4 linked regions of the Homo sapiens genome follow. The protein of the gene in region 1 interacts with the protein of each later gene in a biochemical or structural test. Each region holds a gene or a part of one and is shown in the gene's direction. Other genes may lie near its edges. The genes, in order: LATS2, MOB1A, MOB4 and MOB3A.

Evidence for each region.
Region 2: the proteins of LATS2 (region 1) and MOB1A form a complex in vitro, tested with the Homo sapiens proteins (one study listed by BioGRID).
Region 3: the proteins of LATS2 (region 1) and MOB4 form a complex in vitro, tested with the Homo sapiens proteins (one study listed by BioGRID).
Region 4: the proteins of LATS2 (region 1) and MOB3A form a complex in vitro, tested with the Homo sapiens proteins (one study listed by BioGRID).

What each region holds. Positions count from the first base shown.
Region 1 is NC_000013.11:20,988,146-20,995,648, reverse strand, and holds part of LATS2 (serine/threonine-protein kinase LATS2), read left to right. Parts: intron 1-448; exon of another isoform or gene 449-560; coding exon of another isoform or gene 561-581; intron 582-4,244; coding exon 4,245-4,377; intron 4,378-6,344; coding exon 6,345-7,503. UniProt on the Homo sapiens protein: Negative regulator of YAP1 in the Hippo signaling pathway that plays a pivotal role in organ size control and tumor suppression by restricting proliferation and promoting apoptosis.
Region 2 is NC_000002.12:74,168,739-74,176,241, reverse strand, and holds part of MOB1A (MOB kinase activator 1A), read left to right. Parts: intron 1-3,489; coding exon 3,490-3,656; intron 3,657-7,503. UniProt on the Homo sapiens protein: Activator of LATS1/2 in the Hippo signaling pathway which plays a pivotal role in organ size control and tumor suppression by restricting proliferation and promoting apoptosis.
Region 3 is NC_000002.12:197,518,992-197,526,494, forward strand, and holds part of MOB4 (MOB-like protein phocein), read left to right. Parts: intron 1-4,632; coding exon 4,633-4,695; intron 4,696-7,503. Other genes in the region: HSPE1-MOB4 protein, read left to right, coding at 4,633-4,695.
Region 4 is NC_000019.10:2,071,943-2,079,445, reverse strand, and holds part of MOB3A (MOB kinase activator 3A), read left to right. Parts: intron 1-766; 5' UTR 767-885; coding exon 886-1,306; intron 1,307-2,432; coding exon 2,433-2,635; intron 2,636-6,021; coding exon 6,022-6,051; 3' UTR 6,052-7,503. UniProt on the Homo sapiens protein: May regulate the activity of kinases.

The sequences.
Region 1 (7,503 bases):
CAGCCTGCCCAGTGGAACAGACAGTATCTTCTTACTCCCTGCTTGCAGCTCTTTCTTCCTTTCATCTATCCTATGTCACAGTCTAACTCAGTCACTCACTCAATCATTCATTGAACAGATATCTGCTGATCTCTTTCTACACGCTAGACACCAGAACACATACCTGAACTGTCCTCGCCTTCAGTTGGCTTGCAGCTGAACTCTTGCTTTGGGGCAGGGCTGCTCACCCTTTCCACATCTTGGCATGCATAGACGTGGATAATGTTTACACAGCAGCCTGAGGTAAGCTGGAAGAGACTGGAGGTGTCTATTGAGGCTTGGGGAAAAGAACTCATTACATTTCTTTGTATAATTATTGTAAGAAGAATACACAGTAAAACATTAGAGCCATTAAATATCAAACATGCATAAAATCTACAATTACAGTTTTTATGTTTTTTTTTCCCAGAAACACATAAGATACCTTTGTGAACTGTAACAGCTAACCCTTAAGTGATGCTGATGCCCAAGCATGACATCTCCTTTCATCCCTAGAGCAACCTATTAGCCTTATTTCCCAGATGAGGAAACGGGCACTCAAAGTAAGGAAATGATTTGCTGAAAGTTACACAGCTGCTAAGCAGCAGAGGGGAGGGGTGAACCTAGGTGTGTGGCCTCCCTATCTGCGCCCTGTACCACTGCGCCATCCTGCCATCTTTTGGAATAGCCACCTACGATTCTAGATAAGGACCCTTAAATGATGATCTTTATACATTCTTCTTTTAAAAAATATTTTATTCTATTTTTTTTTTTTTGAGACACATTCTTACTTTGTTGCCCAGCCTGCCCTACTTCCTGGACTCAAGCAATCCTCCTGCCTCAACCTCTTCAGTAGCTGGGATTACAGGCATGCGCCATCAACACCCAGCTATTTTTGTGTAGAGACGGGGTCTCACTGTGTTGCCCAGTCTGGCCTCAAACTCCCGGGCTCAAGCAGTCTTCCTGCCTCAGTCTCCCAAAGTGTTGGGATTATAGGCATGAGCCACCACATCCAGCTTGGTCTCCATACATGCTTAAGAAAGGAAGGTGAGTGGCCAAGCTCCTCGGCCAGGCTTCAGCTGCATCTCTCTGACACACTCCTCCCGCATCCTGGCTCCGACCTCTTGCCATTCCCCCGACTGTGCACTTGTCTTCACTCTGTGACTCTGCATGTACTTTGTGCCCAGAGGCCATGTATTTCTGATGGATTTAGAAGTGGATTCCCATTTCCTTCAGTGTTTAAAACATAGCTCTATGTATATGTACAGTAGCATCTTCTGAGATTTAATGTACAGATAGGAAGTACTTACTTGCTAAAGAAGGGTTGATGGACAGATAACAAGGGCAAGCCTCAAAGGACATGGGTTATTTGAAGGGTTTATTTATAAACAAGCCGGCTCATGAGTACGGTTCACTTTTAGGACTTGAAACTCCCTTCTGAACATGAGTCTTCACTTGTGGTCTCCTTGCTGATTTTTCTGAGTTCCTAGATTTGATGCACAATAAACATACACATCTTGAGTAGTGGGTGCTCCATAAACAGGGAGGGAATTTGAGAACATCCACATTGACCTAGTCTGTCCTGGAGCTGTCCCTTCCTTGGCAGTCAACAGGTACTGGGTTAATGAGCACAGGCTGGTGATTCACCCTGCAGGAGACAGAGCGTTGGTCACGTTTCAGATGAAGCAATTGAACGGTTAGTGCTGATGGAAAGGCTTGTGGTTAGAGTCAGCCCCAATTGGCACATTTTTTTAATGGGCGCCAAAAGCTCCAGGGTGATCCCACAAAGATGTGGTCTTATATCGTGTCTTCCTCCAAGCTGTTGAGTCTTCGTAGACGTGATCTCATCGCATAGCTCCCGAAGTAGGCGGTGGTGGGAGTCTTATCTCCTGTCCCAGGTGGGGTCAGGAAGCACTTCCCTTCTGAACCACCGCTGCCTTCTCTCTGCAACTCTTCCAGGTTGTAAACACTTGCCCTTTCTGGTAGTCCAGGCGCCACTTTAACAAACAGGTCTGTTCTTATTACCATTTTCCAATCTGTCACTTCATGTCCCATGTCCCACATGGGCAGGCAACATGGCCTGCCCATGTGGCGGCACCTCCCCAGGCCTTCCACCTCGTGCTCCTCTGCAGCCCCTTGCCTGTCCCTGCCATCTTGCCATGCCCACGCCTGCATTGCTAAGAACACAGTTTACAGCCTGTGTTTTTTGTGCTGCCATTCTGCTGGCATATGGCCAGGACTGGAAAGCTTGATTCAGTATTAGACCATCATATATGGACAATAAGTGCTTAATTTGTTCTAGGCACTGTGTTAAGGGGGCAGAAGCAACCATGAGTAACATGGATTCAGGCCCTGCCAGGTTCTTCTTGTCCTAAGGGAACCACAGACACACAGCTGAGTGCGATTCAGATCATGGGCACCACAATGCCCTATCCAGAGGTGGGGGACACTCAGTGCTGCATCTCTCTCTGCGGAGTGGCTCTGTGACCATGGCCAGGCTTCCTGCTGCAGAGCAGCCCTGCACGGCCTCCCCCACTGTCCGGGGTCTTTCTGTATCTCCACCCCCCCATTTTTTTTTTTTTTTTTTTTTTTTTTGGAGATGGAGTCACACTTTGTCGCCAGGCTGGAGTGCAGTGGCGTGATCTCGGCTCACTGCAGCCTCCACCTCCCAGGTTTCAAGCAATTCACCTGCCTCAGCCTCCTGAGTAGCTGGAACTACAGGCACACACCACCATACCCAGCTAATTTTTGTATTTTTAGCAGAGACGGGATTTCACCATGTTGGCCAGGATGGTCTCGATCTCTTGACCTCTTGATCCACCTGCCTCGGCCTCCCAAAGTGCTGGGATTACAGGCGTGAGCCACCACGCCCAGCCATCTCCACCCCTTTCTTCTCTGCTGTCTGGGTAACTGTGGACTCCTTTCCGGAGCTCCCCGTTCTACATTTTCAGTTTCCTCCTGCCTGGTTGCCCTCCTCGTTGACCTTCAGAGTGCTCAGCCTTTCTTCTTCTGCTGAAGCCCTTTTTGTGGCCTTTGCCTGTTTTTGCCCTTGTCCCACAGCCAGCCTCAACGGTGTTCTTTTCTCTCTGCTCACCCTCCCTGTTTGCCTACAGCTCTGCGGAGCTGTCCTGAAAGGTGAAGGGGGCGCCTTCATCAGAGCCTCACCGCCCCGCGCCACTGGGCTGCATCTCTTCGGTACCCTCCTGCCTATTCTGTCTCCCCCATCTGAGTGCCTCCAGCTCTGCACCCACAGCCGCCCCCAGCCTGACCTGCTGATGCCGTATGTCCCAGTTTGAAAGCTTCCTCGAATGCCTGCAGACAGGAGCAAAACCCTGGAGAGCCTGGCCCCCATCTGTGGGTCCATCCCCCCATCTCCACCTACCCTTGCGTGCTGCTGCCATGGGCCCATCTTTCCCCAGGCTTCTGCTCTGGCTGTCCCATCTGCCAGGAATGCCTTTTCTCTCCCAGGGCTCTCCACCTGCCCAAAGTCTGGAACAGCTAGCCATGCCACCACCTCATCTTTCGGGTGGAAGGAGGCTTTCTCCTGTGGCCCTCATCCATTTTACCTGCCCTCTCCCGTGGTGGCCACCAGTCCCTGTGTTCTTCCCACAAGCAGTTTGAGCTACCTGTCCTGGACCGGTGTGGCTCCATGGGCCCCTGTTTTGTCTCCTTTCTTTCTTCTACGAGTCAGATCTCTAAGGGCCAGTCCTCCGCTGCTATAGCCAGCATGGGGCATTGTAAACAGTAGGCGTGTAATATATGACTCTTCGGCAGCTGCACCCTCTCCCTGGGGACAGGTTTCCTAGTCCCAGAGTTAGCCTGGAGGTGAGCTGAGGTTAAAGCCAGGTTCCCTGACTCCCACAGTTCTTCCCCTTAAATGTTTCTAGTTTTAGGTTCATCCTGAACTCACCAGTCCAACCACAAAAGTTTTCTGAGGAGAAGCAGAATTTAAGTCTCTTTCAGGCCCATCATCAAAATTCCCATATGTCCTTGACATAAGGCTAAATAGTCTATGGTGTGGCTTGTGCTAGGCTTTTGCCATCAGGTACCTGCAGGGCACACAGCCACCTGCACTCATTCTGAGGGTCTCCTGCAGCATATCGCAGGTTCTCAGCAGTACAGAGGCGAAGTGTCCCAGCACAGTCCAGCACGGAGTGGGGATGGGAGTCTTTGGTGGCTTTGTTTTAGGATGACATGCACTTACCTCTCCTTTACTTCCCTCCCAGGAGATGGCTGGCCGAGCTCTCAAGCAGACTGGCAGCAGGAGCATCGAGGCCGCCCTGGAGTACATCAGCAAGATGGGCTACCTGGACCCGAGGAATGAGCAGATTGTGCGGGTCATTAAGCAGACCTCCCCAGGTGAGCCCAGGCCTGCAGCATAGTGGGCAAAGATGGTTTGTGGCTTAAGGACAACAAAACCACGTGCAGAGGGGTCCAACCTGGCCTGGCCTGGCCAGAGCCAGTCTCCTGGCACATTGCCTCATTCAGTTAACAGGCAAGCTGAGCCTGCCCTGCCCTGACAGAGTCAGGCCCTGGCGGGAGCAGCCCCAAGTGGTAGACCGTGGGACACGCCTGGCGCTTGCCCCATCCAGCCTTGTCTGAAATTACCTTAGTACTTCCTACCTAGGGGAAGGTGTGTGCTTGTTTTATGAAAGATCAAAAAAGTCAGCAAAGCGGGCGTAAAAATGGTCTTTTCACTTTCTCTTGGGCCTGTGGAGGGATCTTTGACAAGGGTGGCTTCTTTCCTCAATTCTAAAACACACCTCTCTCACATCGTAGCTTCTGAGAGTGGGGGTTCAATGGCAGGCAGTGTGGGCAGAGCGCTGGGCCCCCCTCAGCATCCCCTGTGATGGGCCTGAGGCACCGCACCAAACCCCTGCTTTTTACTGGCTATGGATGAATGTTACTTTCCCAAGATGGAGCACATGGGCCCTGTGATTGGTACCTGAGGCCCCTGGGGTGTGATAAAGGATTCATGGCCAGGCGCAGTGGCTCAAGCCTGTAACCCAACACTGTGTGGCCTGGTTTTGTTTTGCTTTGTTTTGTTTTGTGTAATCCCAACTCTTTGGGAGGCTGAGGCCAGAGGATGGAGGCAGGAGTTGGAGACCAGCCTGGGCAACAGAGGGAGACCTCGTCTGTATTTAAAAAAAAAAAAAAAAAAAAAAAAAATCCTAGTAATTAGCAAGAGTTTTCCCTATTTTGTGGAAGACCTTGGATAAAACCTACTTCATGTGGGTGAGAAAAATCTCACCTTTGTAAGTTATATCTCCATTGTTAAAAGGACACACATTTTTGTTTTCTTCTTAAGAGAAGGAACTTCCTTAAATAGCCCCCAGCTGGCCATCCATGTCAGAATTCTTCCAGTTTTGAGGCCTTAGAGCACAGCTCAAAGGGAAGGCCAGGCCCATGTTCCGTGCTGATTTCCCTCTGCACTTGCCTTTGGTGTGTCTCTTCACTGACGTCTTCTGGGCCCAGGGAAAACAAAGCCTTGGTGTGCCTGTGACCTTTGTTCAGTGCCAGGCTGTCAGGGCCTTCACTCTGCCAGGTATCGGGGTGGTCTTCCTGTGGGCAAGGCCCAGCCTTTCCACCCTTCGGCACCCTCTGCTAAGCCGAGCCAAGTGGAGCAGTTGGCCTGAAGAAATGAAAGGAACCTTTGTCCTTCCTTCCGGTGTCTGTTTCAGATGAGATGTACAAAATGGAGGTCAGGATTAAGGTAGCAGCAGATGAAATCAATCTGGATATTTGTAGAGGGGTTTTGTGTGGTTTTTATTATTGTGTATATATTGCTTTGTTTTAATATAGACAAAAAAAACTAGAAAGTCTTTTAATTTGGAAAAGAGGTGAAAGAGAAGTGGAGCAGCTGCTGCACAGTGGATACAGTTCTGCCCTTTCTGTGAGGGAGCAGCGCTTTGGGAACCGTGTGTCGGTAAACTCAGCCCCCCACAATTTGGGCATGATAGGGTTTTGAAAAAGCAAAGCTGGCTATGCAGACGGCTCCCTAGCCTGACAGGAGAGTGACCCCAGTGTGGTCCCCAGGGGGCAGGGACGCACCTCGGGATGTGGACGCAGTCTTCTCTTCTGCCCTTGGCCCTCCCATGTGCCCTTCAGCTTGTCTCCACTCTGCTAACACATTAGGGCAACTGGTCCTGCTGGCAGGGCAGAGGGGAGTCCACTGACCCTGTGCTGGGCAGAATGCAGCACGTCAGGGCCCAGGGTTCAAGACCCTCAGCCCCGAGGGCAGCGCTAGAGTGGGGACCAGCCTGGAAGTGCCAGAACCCACTGATCACACCCACTCTGATGCTGTCTTCCTGTTTTTTCCACTGCAGGAAAGGGGCTCATGCCAACCCCAGTGACGCGGAGGCCCAGCTTCGAAGGAACCGGCGATTCGTTTGCGTCCTACCACCAGCTGAGCGGTACCCCCTACGAGGGCCCAAGCTTCGGCGCTGACGGCCCCACGGCGCTGGAGGAGATGCCGCGGCCGTACGTGGACTACCTTTTCCCCGGAGTCGGCCCCCACGGGCCCGGCCACCAGCACCAGCACCCACCCAAGGGCTACGGTGCCAGCGTAGAGGCAGCAGGGGCACACTTCCCGCTGCAGGGCGCGCACTACGGGCGGCCGCACCTGCTGGTGCCTGGGGAACCCCTGGGCTACGGAGTGCAGCGCAGCCCCTCCTTCCAGAGCAAGACGCCGCCGGAGACCGGGGGTTACGCCAGCCTGCCCACGAAGGGCCAGGGAGGACCGCCAGGCGCCGGCCTCGCTTTCCCACCCCCTGCCGCCGGGCTCTACGTGCCGCACCCACACCACAAGCAGGCCGGTCCCGCGGCCCACCAGCTGCATGTGCTGGGCTCCCGCAGCCAGGTGTTCGCCAGCGACAGCCCCCCGCAGAGCCTGCTCACTCCCTCGCGGAACAGCCTCAACGTGGACCTGTATGAATTGGGCAGCACCTCCGTCCAGCAGTGGCCGGCTGCCACCCTGGCCCGCCGGGACTCCCTGCAGAAGCCGGGCCTGGAGGCGCCGCCGCGCGCGCACGTGGCCTTCCGGCCTGACTGCCCAGTGCCCAGCAGGACCAACTCCTTCAACAGCCACCAGCCGCGGCCCGGTCCGCCTGGCAAGGCCGAGCCCTCCCTGCCCGCCCCCAACACCGTGACGGCTGTCACGGCCGCGCACATCTTGCACCCGGTGAAGAGCGTGCGTGTGCTGAGGCCGGAGCCGCAGACGGCTGTGGGGCCCTCGCACCCCGCCTGGGTGCCCGCGCCTGCCCCGGCCCCCGCCCCCGCCCCCGCCCCGGCTGCGGAGGGCTTGGACGCCAAGGAGGAGCATGCCCTGGCGCTGGGCGGCGCAGGCGCCTTCCCGCTGGACGTGGAGTACGGAGGCCCAGACCGGAGGTGCCCGCCTCCGCCCTACCCGAAGCACCTGCTGCTGCGCAGCAAGTCGGAGCAGTACGACCTGGACAGCCTGTGCGCAGGCATGGAGCAGAGCCTCCG
Region 2 (7,503 bases), on another chromosome or scaffold:
TGCAGTGGTGCGATCTCAGCTCACTGCAACCTCTGCATCCCGGGTTCAAGCAATTCTCCTGCCTCAGCCTCCCAAGTAGCTGGGATTACAGGCACTTGCCACCACGCCCGGCTAGTTTGTGTGTGTGTGTGTGTGTGTGTGTGTGTGTGTGTGTGTGTAGTAGAGGCGGGGTTTCACTATGTTGGTCAGGGTGGTCTCAAACTCCTGACCTCAAGTGATCCACCCGCCTTGCCCTCCCAGAGTGCTGGGATTACAGGTGTGAGCCACTGCACCCGGCTCTTTTTTACTTCTTAATCAGTCTTATTTAAATTCCAAATTACTCAGGTAAAGTAAAAGTCCATAGTTCTATTCCATTCCTCTTCCTAGAAGTAATCACCAGTTTTGATGAGTTTAGTTTTTGATATTTTCTATGTATTTACAAAATGGGCTCCTGCTGTACGTTTGGTTGTGTATTATGTTTAACCATGTATTAGATCTTTCCCTGTGAATACGTGTACTCTGTCTGGTTTTCTTAACTTCTATACAATATTCCATGATATGGATGTACCATACTTTAATTCAATCCTCTACTGATAAACTTGAGGATTGCTTCTAGGTTTCTCCCTATTAAAAACAATCTTGGAAAAAAATTCTTATCCATATCTAGAGGAGATATTTAGAAGTAGAATGGATGGCTTGAGGAGCTTTTCAGTATTAATAGATACTACCATATTGCCCTCCCAAAATGTTACACTTTATACTTTCACCAGTAGTGTATTAAAATACTAGTTTCTCTGTACCCTAGTCCAGTGGTCCCTAACCTTTTTGGCACCAGGGACCAGTTTTGTGGAAGACAATTTTTCCACAGATCTGGTTGGGGAGATGGTTTCTGGATGATTCAAATGCATTACATTGATTGTGCACTTTATTTCTATTATGACATTGGAATATATAATGAAATAATTCTACCACTCATCATAATGTATAATCAGTGGGAGCTCTGAGCAACTAGACAATCCCATCTGGGGGTAATGGGAGAGAGTGACAGATCATCAGGCTTTAGATTCTCATAAGGCACATGCAATTTAGATCCCTTGCATGCACAGTTCACAGTAGTGTTCACGCTCCTGTGAGAACCTAATGCCTCTGCTGATATGACAAGAGGTGGAGCTCAGGTGGTAATGCCAGCAATGGGGAGCAGCTGTAAATACAGATGAAGCTTTGCTGCTTGCTCACTGCTCATCTCCTTCTGTGGGCTCCAGTCTGTGTCCTTGGGGTTGGGGGCCCCTACCCTAGTCCACATTTAATGTAATCATTTAAACTTTTGACATTCAGATTAGGGAAAAAATAAATCTTACTTTAATTGAACAGTTTTTCTCATGCTCATTGATTGTCATACTTCTGAATTGCCTATTCATCTCCTTAGCCTATTTTTCTAAAGGATTCCTTATATTCTTAACGAGTTACAGAAGCCCTCTATTATCCAGTTCATCCTTTGTAATATATGTTACAAGTACTTTTATTTGGTTACTTGTCTTTTTGCTCTGTTATGAAAGTTTTAATTGATACTATTTGAAATCTGTCCACTTTTTCTTTGAGGTTTCTGAGTTTTGTGCAGGAAGACTTTATGGATGGTGTGAGATAGGAATAAAAACATTTTTTCCTCAATAACGAGTTGTGCCTGTCTCATTTATTTTCCCTATTATAAACTTAAAGATGTTAGTGTTTCTTTTACTGTGGTTTGCTTTCAAGGCGTCTCAAATATTTTGATATAGAATACTGGATTTTTGAACTAAACCTCCCTGCGCCATTTTCTTTTTATCTTCCCCACCCCCCATTCCGCCTTACTATGTTGTCCTGGCTGGTCTCAAACTCCTGGGCTCAAGAAATCCTCCTGCCTTGGTCTCTCAAATGGCTGGGATTAGAGGTGTGAGCGACTGCACTTGGCTCCACCATTTTCTTTTTTCTTTTCTTTTCTTTTTTTTTTTTTTTTGAGACGGAGTCTCACTCTGTTGCCAAGCTGGAGTGCAGTGGTGCAAGCTTGGCTCACTGCAACCTCCGCCTCCTGGGTTCAAGCCATTCTCCTGCCTCAGCTTCCCGAGTAGCTGGGACTACAGGCGTGTGCCACCACGCCCAGCTAATTTTTGTACTTGTTTTTTAGTGGAGACGGGGTTTCACCATGTTGGGCAGGATAGTCTCAATCTCTTGACCTCGTGATCCACTGCCTCGGCCTCCCAAAGTGCTGGGATTACAGGTGTGAGCCACCGCACCTAGCCATGGCCCCATCATTTTCTTTTTTTTTTTTTTTTTTTTTGAGACGGAGTTTCGCTCTGTCGCCCAGGCTGGAGTGCAGTGGTGCGATCTCGACTCACTGCAAGCTCCGCCTCCCGGGTTCACCCCATTCTCCTGCCTCAGCCTCCCGTGTAGCTGGGACTACAGGCGCCCTCCACCACGCCCGGCTAATTTTTGTATTTTTAGTAGAGACGGGGTTTCACCGTGTTAGCCAGGATGGTCTCGATCTCCTGACCTCGTGATCCACCCGTCTCGGCCTCCCAAAGTGCTGGGATTACAGGCGTGAGCCACCGCGCCCGGCATGGCCCCATCATTTTCTATAGCACTTTGGGAGGCTGAGGCGGGTGTATCACTTGAGGTCAGGAGTTCGACACCAGCCTGGCAAACATGGCAAAATCCCATCTCTACTAAAAAAAAAAAAAATTAGCTGGGTGTGGTGGTGCATGCCTATAATCCCAGCTACTCGAGAGGCTGAGGCAGGAGAATCGCTTGAACCCAGGAGGTGGAGATTGCAGTGAGCCGAGATTGTGCCACTACATTCCAGCCTGGGTGACAGAGTAAGACTACATCTCAAAAAAAAAAAAAAAAAAAAAACCGAAATTGAGGCCAAAAGAAGGTTCAGTTTCTCAAGAAGACACAGTTAGTGTCAGATCAAGAACTAAAATCCAGGATGTTTCTCTGTACCAGACTTCTTCAGAGGGCATAGTAAAATTGCCTTATTTGTGGAATTGTGCTGCTAATCTTGCTTTTACAGGCAGGGGAAAAAAAGCATTCTTGTATTGTGATCATCATCTTCCTATCTTGGCATTTTTCAGAGAGTGTTTTTGTTTTTTTTGAGACTGAGTCTTGCTCTGTCACCTGGGCTGGAGTGCAGTGATGCGATTTCAGCTTACTGCAACCTCTGCCTCCCAGGTTCAAGCCATTCTTCTGCCTCAGCCTCCCAAGTAGCTGGGACTACAGGTGTGCGCCATCATGCTTGGCTAATTTTTGTATTTTTAGTAGACGTGTGGTTTCACCATGTTGGTCAGGCTGGTCTTGAACTCCTGACCTCAGGTGATCCCAAAGTGCTGGGATTACAGGCATGAGCCACCATGCCTGGCCCAGAGAGTATTTTTTATTTTATTTTTACAGGCTACTTTATATACCTAAAATTATGTTGTTCTACCTGTTCTACTTCCAGTCTTAAAAATTCATATACTTGCACTTTTAATCTTACAGCAGCAGCCGCTCTTCTAAAACATTCAAACCAAAGAAGAATATCCCTGAAGGATCTCATCAGTATGAACTCTTAAAACATGCAGAAGCAACTCTAGGAAGTGGGAATCTGAGACAAGCTGTTATGTTGCCTGAGGGAGAGGATCTCAATGAATGGATTGCTGTGAACAGTAAGTTTTAAAATGTAACTTTGCTGTTTTCTAGAAAGGTTTTGCTAAAATCTCTTTGTTAATGAATTTTCTTTTACAGTTAGAACTGTTTTAATATAACAAATTATCTGTAAAGAAACATTAAGTACAAATACATCCAAAGCTATGTTGCTCTTTTCAGAGTACTAGGTGGTAGTTTGTGAGGTTGAGTAGAGGGAGCTGAGGAGAAATGATGAGTGCTTTTGGGCAATTTCTAAGAAGAATAGTATGAAAAGCTGAGTAAGGTCAGATAAAAGATTGATAAATGAAAAGATTATGCCTGTTGTGGTCTGTGACTTTGTAGCAAATCCATCTACAGTTTTACTTCCACTCCCAGCAGTACTCATCAGCCTGCATATCCAGAAAAGTCAATTGCAGTTCATATGGACAGTTGATTGTTGTGACTTAGAGTGGCAGAGGGAATTGAGAGATTGGGAGAAAATGGAGGGATCTGAGCTGAAAGTCACTTTAAGTTCAAGAGAACAAGTGCATGACATGGGACAATATGCTAAGGCTAGAGATTTGAATGTGAGAGTCTCTCATTTCTGAGATGATATCATTTCTGGGTAATAAAGTTTAAATTAGAGATTTCAGATGTTCCAGGAATAAAAAGTTTAAATAAAAAGTTTAAAACTTTTTATTTATTTATTTATTTATTTATTTTTGAGATGGAGTCTTGCTCTGTTGCCCAGACTGGAGTGCAATGGCTCAATCTTGCTTCACTGCAACCTCCACCTCCCGGGTTCAAGCCATTCTCCTGTCTCAGTCTCCTGAGTAGCTGGGATTACAGGCACACGCCACCACACCCAGCTAATTTTTTACATTTTAGTAGAGACAAGGTTTCACCATGTTGCCCAGGCTGGTCTTGAACTCCTCAGCTCAGGCAATCTGCCTGCTTTGGCCTCCCAAAGTGCTAGGATTACAGGCATGAGCCACCACGCCCAGCCTAAAACTTCTTAATGGAAAATTTCAAACATATAAAAGTAGACTAAGTACAGTGAATTCCAGGTATTCATTCCATTACCCAGCTCCAACAAATATCAGTTTGTGACCAATTTTTCTTCTTCTATATGTCACCCTGATTATTTTAAGCAAATCCCAGACATGATGTTTTATCTATAAATATTTCAGTAAGGTATGTCTAAAAGACAAGAACTTGTAAAGATAATGACAATGCCATCCTCCTTTAACTTATCAAATATCTGGTCAGTGTTCACATTTTTCATGACTGTCCCATAAATGTTTCTTTTATTTTTTATTTTTTTTTTATTTTATTTTTTGAGATGGAGTCTTGCTCTGTCACCCAAGCTGGAGTGCAGTGGCGAAATCTTGGCTCACTGCAACCTCCACCTCCACCTCCCGGGTTTAAGCAATTCTCCTGCCTCAGCCTCCCCAGTAGCTGAGGGATTACAGGTGTCCGCCACCACGCCCGGCTAATTTTTGTATTTTTAGTAGAGAGGAGGTTTTGCCATGTTGGCCAGGCTGGTCTCGAACTCCTGACCTCAAGTGATCTGCCCGCCTCAGCCTCCCAAAGTGCAGGGATTACAGGCGTGAGCCACCGCACCTGGCCAAATGTTTTCTTTTTAAAATTTTTTTGCTTTAAAAATCTATGCTTTGTTTAAATCAGGATCCAAAGAGGCCTGTGTGTATGCTTCTTGAATCTCTTTTTTTTTCTTCAGAGATGGGGTCTTGCTTTGTTGCCCAGGCTGGAGTGCAGTGACATGATCATAGCTCACTGCAGCCTCAACTTCTGGACTCAAGTGATCCTCCCACCTCACCCGTCCGAGTAGCTGGGACTACAGGCTCACACCACCATGCCCTGCTAATTTTTTTTTTTTTTTTTGAGATGGAATCTTGCTCTGTCGCACAGGCTGGCGCGATCTCAGCTCATTGCAACCTCCTCCTCCTGTGTTCAGGTGATTCTTCTGCCTCAGCCTCCTGAGTAGCTGGGACTACAGGTGCCCGCCACCACACCTGGCTAATTTTTCTATTTTTAGTAGAGACGAGGTTTTGCCATGTTAGCCAGGCTGGTCTCGAACTCCTGACTTCAGGTAATCCACCCACCATGGCCTCCCAAAGTGCTGGAAAAAACCCAGCCAAAAAAAAACCTTTTTTAAAAAACTTTATTCAGGGCCGGGCATGGTGGCTCACGCCTGTAATCCCAGCACTTTGGGAGGCCGAGGCAGGCGGATCACGAGGTCAGGAGATTGAGACCATCCTGGCCAACATGGTAAAACCCCATCTCTACTAAAAATACAAAAATTTAGCTAGGTGTGGTGGCACGCACCTGTAGTCCCAGCTACTTGGAGGCTGAGGCAGGAGAATCACTTCCCGGGAGGTGGAGGTTGCAGTGAGCTGAGGTTGTGCCACTGCACTATAGCCTGGGCGACAGAGCAAGACTCCATCTTAAAAAAACACACACACACAAAAACAAACAAACAAACAAAACTTTATTCAGATTATCATCTGTTATTCTGAAGTCATTTATTGACCTTCAGCCTTAGATTTTTCTTTGAGACTTAACTGCTGTAGATCAGCAGTTCTCAAATTTTTTGGTCTCAGATCCACTTACCCTCTTAAAAAATTATTGATTCCCATAAATATGTACCATTCTGTGTTAATTAAAAAAGTAAAATACAAGCTGGGCATGGTGGCTCATGTCTGTAATCCCAGCACTTTGGGAGGCTGAGGTTGGCAGATCACTTGAGGTCAGGAGTTCGAGACCAGCCTAGGCAACATGGTGAAACACCAGCTCTACTAAAAATACAAAAATTTGCTGGGTGTGGTGGCACACACCTGTAATCCCAGCTACTGAGGAGGCTGAGGCAGGAGAATTGCTTGAACCTGGGAGACGGGGGTTGCAGTGAGCCAAGATCGCACCACTGCACTCCAGCCTGGGCAACAGAGTGAGACCCAGTCGGGGGAAAAACAAGGTAAAATACAAAAAATACAAAAAAAATTATTGAGAACCCCAAAGAGCTTTTAATTATATTGGGTATATCTCGTGATACTCTGTTGGAAATTAAAACTGAGAAGATGTAAATAGTTATTTTTATTTTTTATTTTCTCTCGAGACAGTATCGCCCTGTCGCCCAGGCTGGAGTGCAGTGTCACGATCTTGGCTCACTGCAGCTGCCTCCTGGCTTCAAGCAGTTCTCCCACCTCAGTCTCCAGAGTAGCTGGGATTACAGGCATGTGCTACCATGCCCGGCTAATTTTTGTATTTTCAGTAGAGACGGGGTTTTGGCATGTTGGCCAGGTTGTTCTAGAACTCCTGGCCTCAAGTGATCCGCCTGCCTCATCCTCCCAAAGTGCTGGGATTACAGGCGTGAGCCACTGCACCCGGCCCAAATTCATTTTAAAATAACAATAATAAACCCATTACATGTTACCATAAATATGTTTTTACGAAAAATGACTATTTTCCATAACAAATTTTAGTGAGAAGTATGGCATTGTTTTATATTTTTGCAAATCTTATTTAATGTCTGGCTTAATAGACACCTGGATTCTTATATCCGTTTCTGTATTCAGTCTGTTGTGATATTACACATCATGGAGCCTCTGGAAAACACCATTGTGCCCTCTTGAGAGAGTAAGAGTGAAAAGAACAATTAAAATGGTTTGACCTTACAGATCCTCCCTCAGATAGGGGATTCCTGGACCACGTTTTGAGAATAGCTCTTCTAGACCAAACCAACTTCCACCTGGGCATATTTTTTGTTTTGAGTGAATATTGAATACCTAAGTGTTACTTTCTTAGAAACATGACTAAGAGGAAGATTTATAAGTGAGGGAGTTTTGTATAAAATTCCTTTTACAAGATAGC
Region 3 (7,503 bases), on another chromosome or scaffold:
TCGTGATCCGCCCGTCTCGGCCTCTGAAAGTGCTGGGATTACAGGCATGAGCCACTGCGCCCAGCCAATTTTTTTTGTATTTTTAGTAGAGATGGGGTTTCAGCGTGTTAGCCAGGTTGGTCTCGAACTCCTGACCTCAAGTGATCTTCCCGCCTCAGCCTCCCAAAGTGCTGGGATTACAGGCGCAAGCCACCACGCTGGGCTTCATAGTTGGTTTTCAATAAATGTTTGTTGGTTGAATTAGATGAGAATCTTTATTAAGCTGAATTTTTGGTGTCTCTCATAGGCATCTAAAATATGTCACAGTTATGAGAAGGCGAAACATTTCATTCTCAACATCTTTTCTATATATAGTCATCATTGGTGTCCTCTGGGGATTGGCTCCAGGATAACTCCGTACCCCCACCCCATACCAAAATCTGAGGATGCTTAAGTTTCTTAAGTAAAATGGCATAGTGTTTGCATATAACCTATGCACATTCTGTTATATAGTTTAAATCAACTCTAGATTACTTAATAATACCTAATGCAATGCGTGTTCTGTAAATAGTTGTTATACTGTATTTAGGGAATAATGACCAAAAAGAAAGCCGGTACATGTTTAGTACATACGCAACTATCTTAGACCTAACTAGGTACATAGTACATGTCAGCAACAATATAACATTTTCTGTATTTTTTTTCTCCCCTGAAATGAATATTTTCAATTCCTGGTTGATTGAATCTGCAGATTAAACCTGCAGATATGGAGGGCCAACTGTACATGTGTTTTCTAATATTTTAAAAACAACATTCTGTAAACTTCCTTAGTTTTTTTAAAAAGGAAAGAATAGACAGAGTATTGGTAGAAACTTTAGATCATATAGGAAAAATTTTAGAATTGCTCTTTAATAGATAATGTCTAAGAAAAGGAATCCTGGAACCATTTCTAGAAGATTGTTTTATTTCTTGATATTTTCCTTTAATAAAATTAGTTCATTTTCATCCAGATAGGCCAGCTATTTCAAAAAAGATGAAATGTTTAAGACACTTAAAAAGGTGTACTCATTACCTACTGTCCAAACGGGGACATTGCTACTATAGTTGAATCCTTATGGAAGACATTCTCTGTCTTCTACCCTATCATTCCTTTTCTTTTCTGTATACTTTTACTATATATGCATTATATCCATAAGTATGCCTTGCACTTAAACTTTTTTTTTTTTTTTTGAGACAGAATCTCGCTCTGTCTCCCAGGCTGGAGTGCAGTGCTGCACTCTCGGCTCACTGCAAACTCCGCTTCCTGGGTTTGCGCCCACCACCACGCCTGGCTAATTTTTTGTATTTTTTCATAGAGATGGGGTTTCACCGTGTTAGCCAGGATGGTCTCGATCTGCTGACCTCATGATCCGCCTGCCTCGGCCTCCCAAAGTGCTGAGCGTGAGCCACCGCGCCCGGCCTAAACTTTATTCATTTTATATACACTGTGTTTACTTCTAATTTGCTTTTTTTGCTCAAGGTTTTGAAGACTTAATCTTTGTTGATTGTTTTTACAGGTTTATATACAGGTTTATAGATTATTGGTTTACTCTTACCTCCTCCCCACCAAGTTTTACCTCAGAGACATTTGAGCTTCAAAGATGTGTCAGGCATTGTGCTACCCACTGAGGTTACATAGGTAAACTTTTCTGAAAAATCAGTCAAATGGAAAGGTTCTTAATCACTTAGGGGAATATCTGTTAACTGTATTATCTACAGAGAATTCCAGAACCAGGGCAAGATGCTCTATAAAAATATCCCCCTTAAGCTGGGCATGGTGGCTCATGCTTGTAATGCCAGCACTTTGGGAGGCTGAGGCTGGAGGATTGTTTGTGACCAGGAGTTTGAGACCAACCTGGCCAACAAAGTGAGACCTCGTCTCTTAAAAAAAAAAAAAAAAAAAAAAAAGAAGAAGAAATAAAAATATTCCCTTTAACAGAAAGCTGGTTTATTTGATGTTTCCTTCTCTTTTTAAAATTTTTGTGGGTATATAGTAGGTGTATATATTTGTAGGTTACATGAGATATTTTGATACAAGCATGCAGTGTATAATAATCACATCAGGGGGGTAAATGGGGTATCCATCACCATAAACATTTGTATCGGGGAACCTGCCCCGATAGTCACGTAGGTTCTTTTCTATTTTCCCTAAGCATCAGCCAGTTTGAGAAATGAAGGGACAGAGTACAAAAGAGAGAAATTTTAAAGTTGGGCGTCCGGGGGAGACATCACATGTCGGTGGGTACCGTGATGCCCCACAAGCTGCAAAACCGGCAAGTTTTTATTAGGGACTTTCAAAAGGGGAGGGAGTGTACAAATAGGGTGTGGGTCACAAAGATCACGTACTTCACAAGGTAATAGAATATCACAAGGGAAATGGAGGCAGGGCGAGATCACAGGACCACAGGACCAGAGCAAAATTAAAATTGCTAATGAAGTTTCGGGCACCATTGTCATTGATAACATCTTATCAGGAGACAGGGTTTTGAGAGCAACCGGTCTGACCAAAATTTATTAGGTGGGAATTTCCTCTTCCTAATAAGCCTGGGAGCACTATGGGAGACTGGGGTTTATTTCACCCCTACAGTTTCGACCATAGAAGACGGCCATACCCAAGGGGGCCGTCTATAGACCCACCCCCAGGCGTGTATTCTCTTTCCCAGGGATGTTCCTTGCTGAGAAAAAGAATTCAGCGATATTTCTCCCATTTGCTTTTGAAAGAAGAGAAATATGGCTCTGTTCCGCCCGGCTCACCAGTGGTCAGAGTTTAAGGTTATCTCTCTTATTCCCTGAACAATTGCTGTTATCCTGTTCTTTTTCCAAGGTGCCCAGATTTCATATTGTTCAAACACACATGCTCTACAGTTTGTGCAGTTAACACAATTATCACAGGGTCCTGAGGTGACATACCTCCTCCTCAGCTGACAGGATTAAGAGATTAAAGACAGGCCTAGGAAATCACAAGGTATTGATTGGGGAAGTGATAAGTGTCCATGAAATCTTCACAATTTGTGTTTAGAGACTGCAGTAAAGACAGGCATAGGAAATTATAAAAGTATTAATTTGGAGAACTAATAAATGTCCATGAAATCTTCACAATCCACATTCTTCTGCCGTGGTTTCAGCCGGTCCCTCAGTTTGGGGTCCCTGACTTCCTGCAACACATTTGTCCTTTATGTTGCAAAAAATTAGATTCTTTTAGTTTTTTTTAAATGTACAATTAAATTGGTTTTTACTATAGTCACCCTATTGTGCTAGCAAATACTAGGTCTTATTCATTCTTTCTATTTTTTTTGTACCCATGGGTGATTACCTTTTTTTTTTTTTTTTTTTTTTTTTGAGATGGAGTCTTGCTCTGTCACCCAGGCTGGAGTGCAGTGGCGTGATCTTGAGTCACCACAGCTTCCGCCTCCTGGGTTCAAGCAATTCTCCTGCCTCAGCCTCCTGAGTAGCTGGGATTACAGGCGCACGCCACCATGCCCGGCTATTTTTTGTATTTTTAGTAGAGACGGGGTTTCATCATGTTGGCCAGGCTGGTCTCGAACTCCTGACCTCAAGTGATCCTTCCGCCTCGGCCTCCCAAAGTGGTAGGGTTACTGGTGTAAGCCACCATGCCCAGTCTGATGATTACTTTTTAATGGTGCCCATATTTTGATTTAGAAATTCAAAACTCTATTTGGAATGAGAATAATAATTTATAATTTCTTTTTAAAATAATACTTATGGGTCGATCATGGTGGCTCACGCCTGTAATCCCAGCACTTTGGGAGTCTGAAGTAGGCGGATCACGAGATCAAGAGATTGAGACCATCCTGGCCAACATGGTGAAACCCTGTCTCTACAAAAAATACAAAAATTAGCTGGGTGTGGTGGTGCGTGCCTGTAGTCCCAGCTACTCGGGAGGCTGAGGCAGGAGAATCACTTGAACCCAGGAGGTGGAGGTTGCAGTGAGCTGAGATCGCACCACTGCACTCCAGCCTGGCGACAGAGTGGTCTCAAAATAATAATAATAATATTAATAATAATAATTATGGAGCAGTAAATTAGCTACTAATGCTAGATATTCTCTTTTGGTAAAAATCTGATTTACTTTTTGGTGTCTGGAGTTTTTTTTTCATTGTAACTTTTTGAGAGATATTTAACCATCATAAAAAAGTGATAGACTTGTCTCCCCAATTAAGTAATACATTAAAGGTTTATGGGAGCTGTATTTGAGGAATCTGTGATTGGAAAAAACGTAATTTATAGTTCAATTAAATAAAATCTTAATATTCATTTAAAAAACATTAAACAGCCAGGCGCAGTGGGTCAGGACTATAATCCTAAGAATAGGGTGGCTAAGGTGAGAGGCTGAGGTGGGATGATTGCTTACACCCAGGAGTTTGAGGCTGTAGTGAGCTATGATTGTGCCACTGCACACAAGCATGGGCTGCAGAGTGAGACCCTGTCTGTAAAAAAGAAAAGTTGAATAAAATTTATTTCCTTATTTCACTGATAATTACATTGCAAAAGTTTTTTCTTCCCCTCTAGTGTGAGCTTTGGGTCTTTATTAAGAATTGAAGTTAATCATAATAGTATTTTGTATGTGCTTTAACCGTGAATTTATTTTTATAGGATTTCTATAATTGGCCTGATGAATCCTTTGATGAAATGGACAGTACACTAGCTGTTCAACAGGTAATAAAAATAGTTTCTTTTCACCCTGTGTCTTTTGGAGTACGATGTGTAAGTGCCCATTGGGTGGCCTTTGTCTGTTGGTCACTGTGCAGCAGTCTGCTTCCCAATAAAGCGTGCTCTTTCACAAAACAAAACAAAATAGTTCCTTTTACAACTCCAATAACCTAAGCATTTTACCTCTGACATAGTTAAGTATTCTTATATCTTTTCGCATAGAGAAGATTCCACTGAATTAATGGAATGCCTATTTAAAAGTTTAGTCAACCCTCATTTTGTTTTAAGATGGCATATTAAGCTGGGCACTGTGGCTGCCAGCACTTTGGGAGGCCAATCACTTGAGGCCAGGAGTTCAAGACCAGCCTGAGCGACATAACAAGACCCTGTTTCTACGAAAAGATAAATTAGCCAGGCATGGTGGCACACACCTGTAGTCCCAGTAGCTAGGGAGTCTGAGGTGGGGAGATCACTTGATCCTACTTCAAGGGTCTAATGAGCTATGATTGTGCCACTGTACTTCAACCTGGGTGACAGAGTGAGATCTTGTATCTTAAAAAAATAAAAATAGCCCAGGTGTGGTGGCTCACAGCTGTAATCCCAGCATTTTGGGAAGCCGAGGCAGGTGGATCACTAGGTCAGGATATCAAGACCATCCTGGCCAACATGGTGAAACCCTGTCTCTACTAAAAACATAAAAAATTAGCCAGACATGGTGGCATGTGCCTGTAGTCCCAGCTACTCGGGAGGGCTAAGGCAGGAGAATCGTTTAAACCCAAGAGGCGGAGGTTGCAGTGAGCCAAGATCATGCCACTGCACTCCAGCCTGGCCAAAAGCAAGACTCTGTCTCAAAAAAAAAAAAAAAAACAAAAACAAAAACAAAAATACAATTTCATTAAGGGGCTAATAAAAAGATAATATAAATTGGAGCGTACTAGTATATTGGATTAGGCATTGGTTAAATTTTTTTTGTTTTGAATTTTTAGTAGAGACAGGGTTTTGCGATGCTGCCCACCTTGAACTCCTGGGCTCAAGCAGTCCACCCACCATGGCCTCCCAAAGTGCTGGGATTGCAAGTATGAGTCACTGCACCTGTCTTTTTTTTTTTTAGACGGGGTCTCACCCTGTTGCCCAGGCTGGAGTGCAGTGGCTCAAGCATGGCAAAATGTAGCCTCAACTTCCTGGGCTCAGGTGATTGTTCTACCTCAGCCTCCCAAGTAGCTGGGACTATAGGCGCACACTGCCACATCTGGCTGATTTTTTGTAGAGATGGGGTTTCACCATGTTGCCCTGGCTGATGATAACATTTTTAAAGGGAAAATATACCATAAATCGAGGCTGTTTGGCTTCATTTTGATAGCCAGATAATAAAAGTAGATAGCTGGCCGGGTGCGGTGGCTCACGCCTGTAATCCCAGCACATTGGGAGGCCAAGGCGAGCGGATCACCAGGTCAGGAGATCGAGACCATCCTGGCTAACATGGTGAAACCCCATCTCTTACTAAAAATATAAAAAAATTAGCCGGGCGTGGTGGTGGGTGCCTGTAGTCCCAGCTACTCGGGGGCTGAGGCAGGAGAATGATGTGAACCTGGGAGGCAGTGAGCCTGCAGTGAGCCGAGATCGTGCCACTGCACTCCAGCTTGGGGGACAGAGCAAGACTCCATCTCAAAAAAAAAAAAAAGTAGACAGCTATTCGGATTTGTTATGTTATTTGAAGATCTTAGAAAATAAAAGAGACATATAGTTGAATTATTTGAGCATTAAAAACCACCCATCTGGGTGTGGGGGCTCACACCTGTAATCTTAGTACTTTGGGAGGCCGAGGAGGGAGGATCACTTTGAGGTTGGGAGTTTGAAACCAGCCTGGACAATATAGTGAGACCCTGTCTCTGTAAAAAATAAAAAGGTTGGGCTAGGTGGCGTGCACCTGTAGTCCTAGCTACTTAGGAGGCTGAGGTGGGAGGAAAGGGTTTATGGTGAGCTGTGATTGCACCACTGCACTCCAGGCTGGTGACAGAGACCCTATCTCAAAAAAAAAAAAAAAAAAGAAAAAGTGCTGTTCAATCAGCAAATATTTATTGGCTTCTCACGATATAGCTAGCAATGAGTTAGGCCTTGTGGAAGATAAAGGAATATAAACCTAGATCTAGCTCTATGCCTAGAAATTGGTTAAATTTTGAAGAAAAATGTACAGATGGTTATCTCTTTAAAAATAGGGGGAAGTGTCCTGTTTGTTGAATTTGTTCATTTATTCTCACAGGTTTTTTGGATGTGAAATCATTAGGGTTTTCTACATACGAGACCCATGTCATATAATTTTACTTCTCCAATCTAGATCTGTTTTCTTTCTTTTTCTTGCCTAATTGCTCTGGCTAGACCTTCCAGTACTACTTTGAATAAAAGTGGTGAAAAAGGGCATCTTTGTCTTCTTCCTGATCTTAGAGGAGAGCTTTTAGTTTTTCACTGTTGAGTATGATGTTCACTATGGATTTTTCATATATGGTCTTTATTATATTGAAGTTGTTTCCTTTATTCGTAGGTCATTCAGTGCTTTTTAGATCATAAAATGGTGTTAAATTTTGTCAAATGCTTTTTCTGCACCTATTGAGATGATCATGTGTTTCTTTTTCTTACTTTTTTTATTTTTTTATTTTTTTGAGACAGTCTCGCTCTGTCACCAGGCTGGAGTGCAGTGGCGTGACCTCAACTCACTGCAGCCTCTGCCACCTGGGTTCAAGCGATTGTCCTGCCTCAGCCTCCTGAATAGCTGGGATTACAGGCGCCCGCCCCTGCGCCTGGTTAATTTTTGTAGTT
Region 4 (7,503 bases), on another chromosome or scaffold:
GTCACTGACTGTGGGGCCACCCAAGGAATCCAAGATGACGTCCCTTGAGACCTTCTTCCACCTAGGCTGCCATGCACAGGCTGCGGGCATTGCGGTGTGGCTTCCTTTGTGGAGGCCGTAGTCCGGCCATGCAGTCCCCTGTGACTGGCATCTCAGCCTGCCCCACACTCAAGCCCCACAGTGCTGGGTAGCAGCAAGTCTAGGTCCGGGCCAGGCATCGGCACCGGGGAAGATGCGGCCCCTGCGGGCTCTTGGGGCCCGGCTCTGCGCACCTTCTGCTGTGAATCGGTCAGGCCTCGCCACGCGCAGTTCTCTTCTGTCCACTGAGGAGGTGGCCCCCTTTGGGTGAAACTCCTTAAAGTCAAAAGTCCAGGGGATGTTTTGAACCCTGCCACTAGTGGCTCACACCTGTAAGCCCAGCACTTTGGGAGGCAGAGGTGAGAGGATCATGTGAGCCCAGGAGTTGGAGACCATCCTGGGCAACATAGTGAGACCTCGTTTCTACTAAAAATAAAGAAACTTACCCAGGTGTGGTGGTGTGTGCCTATAGTCCCAGCTATTCAGGAGGCTAAGTTGAGAGGATCGCTTGGGCCTGGGAGGCAGAGGTTGCAGTGAGCTGTGATGGCACCACTGTACTCCAGCCGGGGCAACAGAGTAAGACCCTGTCTCAAAAAACAAAACAAAATCCTGCCGCTTGTGCCCTCAGCACGAGTTTCCGGGAAATTCTGTCGCCTCCAGCAGGTCATGATTCCCCTGTGTATTTCAGGTCCGCGGGAGAGCTGTGGGGCTTGGTGAGTGTTTCGTGGCCTCTCGGGTTGGTCAGCACCCCCAGCCAGCTGGCCCAGGACCCCTCTACAGAAGTCCAGGAGAGCAGGCGTCACCAAGATGTCCAACCCCTTCCTGAAGCAAGTCTTCAACAAGGACAAGACATTCCGCCCCAAGCGCAAGTTTGAGCCAGGCACCCAGCGCTTCGAGCTGCACAAGAAGGCGCAGGCGTCGCTGAACGCCGGGCTGGACCTGCGGCTGGCCGTGCAGTTGCCCCCGGGCGAGGACCTGAACGACTGGGTGGCTGTTCACGTGGTGGACTTCTTTAACCGCGTCAACCTCATCTACGGCACCATCAGCGACGGCTGCACGGAGCAGTCCTGCCCCGTCATGTCGGGGGGCCCCAAGTATGAGTACCGCTGGCAGGATGAGCATAAGTTCCGGAAGCCCACGGCACTCTCCGCGCCCAGGTACATGGACCTGCTGATGGACTGGATCGAGGCGCAGATCAACAACGAGGACCTCTTCCCCACCAACGTTGGTGAGTCAGAGCTGGCAGGGGCTCGGGGATACAGAGCCTTCCAGAAAAGTCAGGGAGGCCGAGCACAGTGGCTCACACCCGTAATGCCAGCGCTTTGGGAGGCCGAGCCCAGGGATCGCTTGAGCCCAGGAGTTTGAGCTCAGCCTGGGCAACATAGCAAGATCCCATCTCTACAAAAAATTTTAAAAATTAGCCAGGCATGGTGGCACACGCCTTTGGTCGCAGCTACTCGGGAGGCTAAGGTGGGAGGATCGCTTGAGGCTAGGAGGTTGAGGCTGCAGTAAACTATGATCGTGCCACTGTACTCCAGCCTGGGTGACAGAGCAAGACCCTGTCTCAAAAAAAAAAAAAGGATTCCATTTCTGAGTATTCTCCTAAGTTGGGCTGCTCTTAGTAGCCCCCCTTCATCCTGAATCACTCCTGGTGACTCCTGTCTCCTCACCCCAAAGCAGAGAATGACAGGATCAGCATCAGGCCTGGAGTCCTTCGCAGAGGAGACAAGCACCCCTGCCAGTGCTGGGCCCAGTGTTCTCAGTGGTTTCAGAATCACTGCCATGGAGCCCCTGGGCCCACCAGGATCATCACCCCGTTGGCGGGACCCCCTGCCCAGCTCGATGTGTAATGCACTGCATGGCTCTCAGGGACACCCCATAAACGTGGGTTTGAGGATGATCATTAGGGCACGTCCCTCCAGAGTACAGCGTACCTTTCTTTTCTTTTCTTTTTCTTTTTTTTTTTGAGACAGTGTCTCACTCTGTCACCCAGGCTGGAGTGCAGTGGCACGATCTCGGCTCACTTCAACCTCTACCTCCCAGGTTCAAGCGATTCTTCTGCCTCAGCCTCCTGAGTAGCTGGGATTACAGGCATGAGCCACCACACCCGGCTAATATTTGTATTTTTTAGTAAAGATGGGGTTTCTCCATGTTGGCCAGGCTGGTCTCGAACTCCAGACCTCAAGTGATCTGCCTGCCTCGGCCTCCCAAAGTGCTGGGATTACAGGCGTCAGCCACCGCGCCCGATCTGCCAGCAATTTCTGTCTGGAAGCCCCTTGTCACATCCAGGAGCAAAGGGTTCTGGACATGGACTTGGCTGAGTCCGTGGACCCGTCCCACCCCTCTCCCTGCAGGCACTCCGTTTCCCAAGAACTTCCTGCAGACGGTGCGGAAGATCCTGTCGCGGCTGTTCCGCGTGTTCGTGCACGTCTACATCCACCACTTTGACCGCATCGCGCAGATGGGCTCCGAGGCCCACGTGAACACCTGCTACAAGCACTTCTACTATTTCGTCAAGGAGTTCGGCCTCATCGACACCAAGGAGCTGGAGCCACTGGTGCGCGGGCTTGGGGCTGAGGGCGTGCGGTTACGGTGGGGCTGGTGGCCCGTGGCAGAGGAACCCTTCCGGGGCCAGGACCCTGACTGCTTGCGGTCGGCCCAGCAGCTGGCGGCCCCGGCTGGAGTTGGGCCCCGGGGACCCTGCTGATGGGACAAGTGGTGAGGTAGCTGGGAGGGATCCTGCGTTCTCCCACGGAACAAATGCCGGCGACAGGTGCAGTTTCCTCCGCGCCGCCCCGCGTCCAGCTCACTCCGCCTTCACCGTCCTGAGCTCAGGTGTCCCAGAGCGCCGCTCAGTGTCCCTTATGAAAGGGATGCGAGCCGGCACAAGCAGACTCCACCCCGACTTTTTTTGTTTGTTTGTTTTTGTTTGTTTTGAGACGGAGTCTCACTCTGTCACCCAGGCTGGAGTGCAGTGGTGCGATCTCGGCTCACTGCAACCTCCGCCTCCCGAGTTCAAGTGATTCTCCTGCCTCAGCCTCCCAAGTAGCTGGGATTACAGGCACGCGCCACCACGTCCAGCTAATTTTTTGTGTTTTTAGGAGAGAGGGGGTTTCACCGTGTTAGCCAGGATTGTCTCGATGGATCTCCTGACCATGTGGTTTGCCCATCTCAGCCTCTCAAAGTGCTGGGATTACAGGCGGGAGCCACTGTGCCTGGCCTTTTTTTTTTTTTTTTTTTTTTTGGAGATGGAGTCTGCCTCCCTCACCCAGGCTGGAGTGCAGTGGCGCCATCTTGGCTTACTGCAACCCCCACCTTCCGGGTTCAAGCAGTTCTCCTGCCTCAGTCTCCTGAGTAGCTGGGATTACAGGCACGTGCCACCACACCCCGCTAATTTTTGTATTTTTAGTAGAGACCAGGTTTTGCCATGTTGGCCAGGCTGGTCTCAAACTCCTGAACTCAGGTGATCTCCCTGTCTCGGCCTCCCAAAGTGCTGGAATGACAGACAGGAGCCACCGCACCTGCCTAGATTCCACCCGACTTCTGTAGCCAGCCGGGTACCTCTGCATCTGCCCTAGCCTGTCTGCTTTCCACGTTACCAGGTTTTATCGGGAGACGAACCCAGGGACCAGATTCCTCGGTGTGGGGTCCACATCCCTGAAGCCAATGTTGCTTCTTGAAATTGGGGCCCACAATTGTGTCTCGGTGATGGGGACCAGCAGTGGAGTGGGTGCCCGTGATTCAGGGCCTGGCACTGGAACCTGCCCAGAGGCTGCATTGTTCCCCAGGCTGCTGGGCGCTGTATGGATGTGGGGATCCTGATGTGAGAGCGGGACCCCACCAGCCTCCGAGTAGCTGGGACCACAGCCAGCACGCCCGGCTGATTTTTTATTGTGTGTAGAGATGGGGTCTCACTATGATGCCCAGGCTGGTCTGAACTCATGGATGCAAGCAATCCTCCCACCTTGGCCTCCCAAAGTATTCAGATGACAGGTGGGAGCCACCACTCTCTTACAACTTTAAAAAATGGTTAAAAATGGACGGACGAGGTGGCTCCCACCAGTAATCCCAGCCCTTTGGGAGGCCAAAGAGGGAGAATCACTCGAGCTCAGAAGTTTGAGAACAGCCTGGACAACATAGTGAGACCTCATCTCTACAAAAAATGAAAAAAATGAGCCAGGCACAGTGGTGCGTGCCTGTGGTCCTAGCTACTCAGGGGGCTGAGACAGGAGAATTGCTTGTGCCTGGGAGGTTGAGGCTGCAGTAAGCCGAGATCACGCCACTGTAGTCCAGCCTGGGTGACAGCCAGTAACCTGTCTCAAAAAAAAAAAAAAAGAAAAGAAAAGATTAAGGCCCGGCGTGGTGGCTCACGCCTGTAATCCCAGCACTTTGGAATGCCAAGACGGGCAGCTCATGAGGTCAGGAGTTCAAGACCAGCCTGGCCAACATGGTGAAACCCCATCGCTACTAAAAATACAAAAAATTAGCTGGGCATGGTGGCACGCGCCTGTAATTCCAGCTACTCGGGAGGCTGAGGCAGAAGAATCACTTGAACCCAGGAGGCAGAGGTTGCAGTGAGCTGAGATCGCGCCATTGCACTCCAGCCTGGGTGACAGAGCAAGACTCTGTCTCAGGGGAAAAAAAAAAATTAGCCAGGCATGGTGGTGGGCACTTGTGATCCCAGCTACTCAGGAGGCTGAGGCAGGAGAATCGTTTGAACCCAGGAGGTGGAGGTTGCAGTGAGCCAAGATTGCGCCACAGCTCTCCAGCCTGAATGACAGAGTGAAACTCCGTCTCAAAAAAAAAAAAAGACTAAAAACATCTTCACATAACTTCCTCATTTTTGTGCATCCCCTTTCAGGCTTTGCTACTGGTAAACATTTTGCTAAATTTAAAATTAATAGTTGCATACTCAGTGGCTCTAAAGATGGTAGTGGGGTCTTCCTCTTTTTTCTTTCTTTTTCTTTTCTTTTTTCTTTTTCTTTTTTTCTGTATTCCAGAACTTTCCTTCTAGTGTCCCAGTCTGTATAAGACAGGGATCAGCAAACTGCAGCCCTCTGGCCTGGCTTCCTGTTTTTGTAAATAAAGTTTCTGGGGTTTTTTTGTTTGTTTGTTTGTTTGATCTCAGCCACTGCAACCTCCACCTCACAGGTTCAAGTGATTCCCCTCCCTCAGCCTCCTGAGTAGCTGGGACTACAGGCATGTGCCACCATACCTGGCTTATTTTTTTGTATTTTTAGTAGAGACGGGGTTTCACCATGTTAGCCAGGATGGTCTCGATCTCCTGACCTCATGATCCGCCCACCTCAGCCTCCCAAAGTTGTTTTTTTCTTTTTTGAGACAGAGTCTCGCTCTGTCACCCAGGCTGGAGTGCAGTGGCGCGATCTTGGCTCACGGTAACCTCTGTCTCCCAGGTTCAAGCGATTCTCCTCCCTCAGCCTCCTGAGTAGCTGGGATTACAGGTGCCTGCCACCATGCCAGGCTAATTTCTATATTTTTAGTAGAGACAGGATTTCACCGTGTTATCCAGGCTGGTCTTGAACTCCTGACCTCAGGTGATCTGCCTACCTCTGCCTCCCAAAGTGCTGGGATTACAGGCGTGAGCCACCAAGCCTGGCTGTAAATACAGTTTTATTGGCAGCGAGGTACACTTGTGAGGTTACCATCGTCTGAGGTGGCTTTTGAGGTACAAGACAGAGTTGAGCCATCATGACAGGGACCGTCTGGCCCACAGATCTGAAAATGCTGACTCTCTGGCCTCATGGGGTAGCCTGCTGCCCCTGGTCTCAGGTGTGCCATTGCCTGTGTGGTTTTTGTTGTTTGGGTGTTCAGGGAAGCCCCCAGCTGCCGTTTCTCTGCCTGTGCGTCTCCGTGTGTCTGCTGTTCGCATCACCCCTTTTAGGAGTGGCTGGTGGGAGCTGATGTCTTGCTTGCTCTTTACAGAAAGAAATGACCGCCCGGATGTGCCACTGAGAGCCCCGCGGGTCTCCCGGTGCCCGAACCGCCGCTGGGGCCTCGGAGACTTGGAGGAGGACGCTCTGGAACCATCATCCCGCTTCTCTCCGGCCTGAGCATCTCAGGGAGACCAGGGGCCGAGCCGCTGAGCAGGTGTTGGTCCTCAGGAGCTCCAACCCCGGACGGCAGATGCCTTCCTCAGTCTCGAGCCTCAGTCTCCCGTCTGGGACTAAAACGTGAACTCTGTAATTCTATGTGTTACTAGCAACCGGAAAAGCCCACTGTGTTTTTAAACCACTTCCACTTTCCAGGAGGCTGGATGGCTTCCAGGGTCACTCCTTGCCCTGGGTGGCTCCCAGGCTCCTGGAACTTCTGCCTCCACCTCGCTGGGGAGCCCCCAGGGCTGCTGTGGCCACAGCCCTGCCTGGGCCTGTCTCTCAAGGGCACCCAGCTTGCTCGGCCTCCTACATGTCTCCCGTTGGGGAGGCAAGAGGCTGAGGGGCTTCCGAGCCCCTGAGAGCGGACATCTCCTCCCGCAGGCCTTTACTCCGCACTCCCCACTGGCAGCCGCTGGTGTCTCTTCACACAGAGGCACAACCTGGACCCAGGCAGCCTCTTTCCTCCCTCCCCAATCTCTTCCATTTTTCTACAGATTTTTTTTTTTTTGGTCATACTAGAGACAGGGGTCTCGCTGAACTCCTGGCCTCCAGTGATCCTCCATCCTCGGCCTCCCAAAGTGCTGGAATCACAGGGGTGAGCCACCGCACCCAGCCCTCTCTCTTCCTCAATGCACTCTGCTTCTTCCGTTCTTCCGAAACATTCAGCTGACTGTATCCAGGGCTTCCTGGACTCCTGGGACCCCACGTCCTGCACCCCGGCTTCTGACTCATTTCCTAAGGGCCCCTTTGTGTATCATAAAGGGTTTGATTTTTATAGTCACATTTACAACCATCTTGAGATTTTTATTTTTTTTGAACGGAGTCTCCCACTGTCGCCCAGACTGGAGTCCAGTGGCACAATCTCGGCTCACTGCATCCTCCACCTCCTGGGTTCAAGTGATTCTCCTGCTTCAGCCTCCCAAGTAGCTGGGATTACAGGTGTGCGCCACCACGCCCAGGAAATTATTGTAGTTTTAGTAGAGACAAGATTTCACCATGTTGGCCAGGCTGGTCTCAAACTCCTGACTTCAGGTGATCCGCCTACCTTGGCCTCCAAAAGTGCTGGGATTACAGGCATGAGCTACTGCACCCGGCCTAACCAGGCTGGAGTGCAGTGGTGGGATCTCGGCTCACTGCAAGCTCCGCCTCCCAGATTCACGCCATTCTCCTGCCTCAGCCTCCCCAGCAGCTGGGACTACAGGCACCCACCGTCACACCCGGCTAATTTTTTTGTATTTTAGTAGAGACAGGGTTTCACCGTGTTAGCCAGGATGGTCTTGATCTCCTGACCTTGTGATCCACCAGCCTCAGC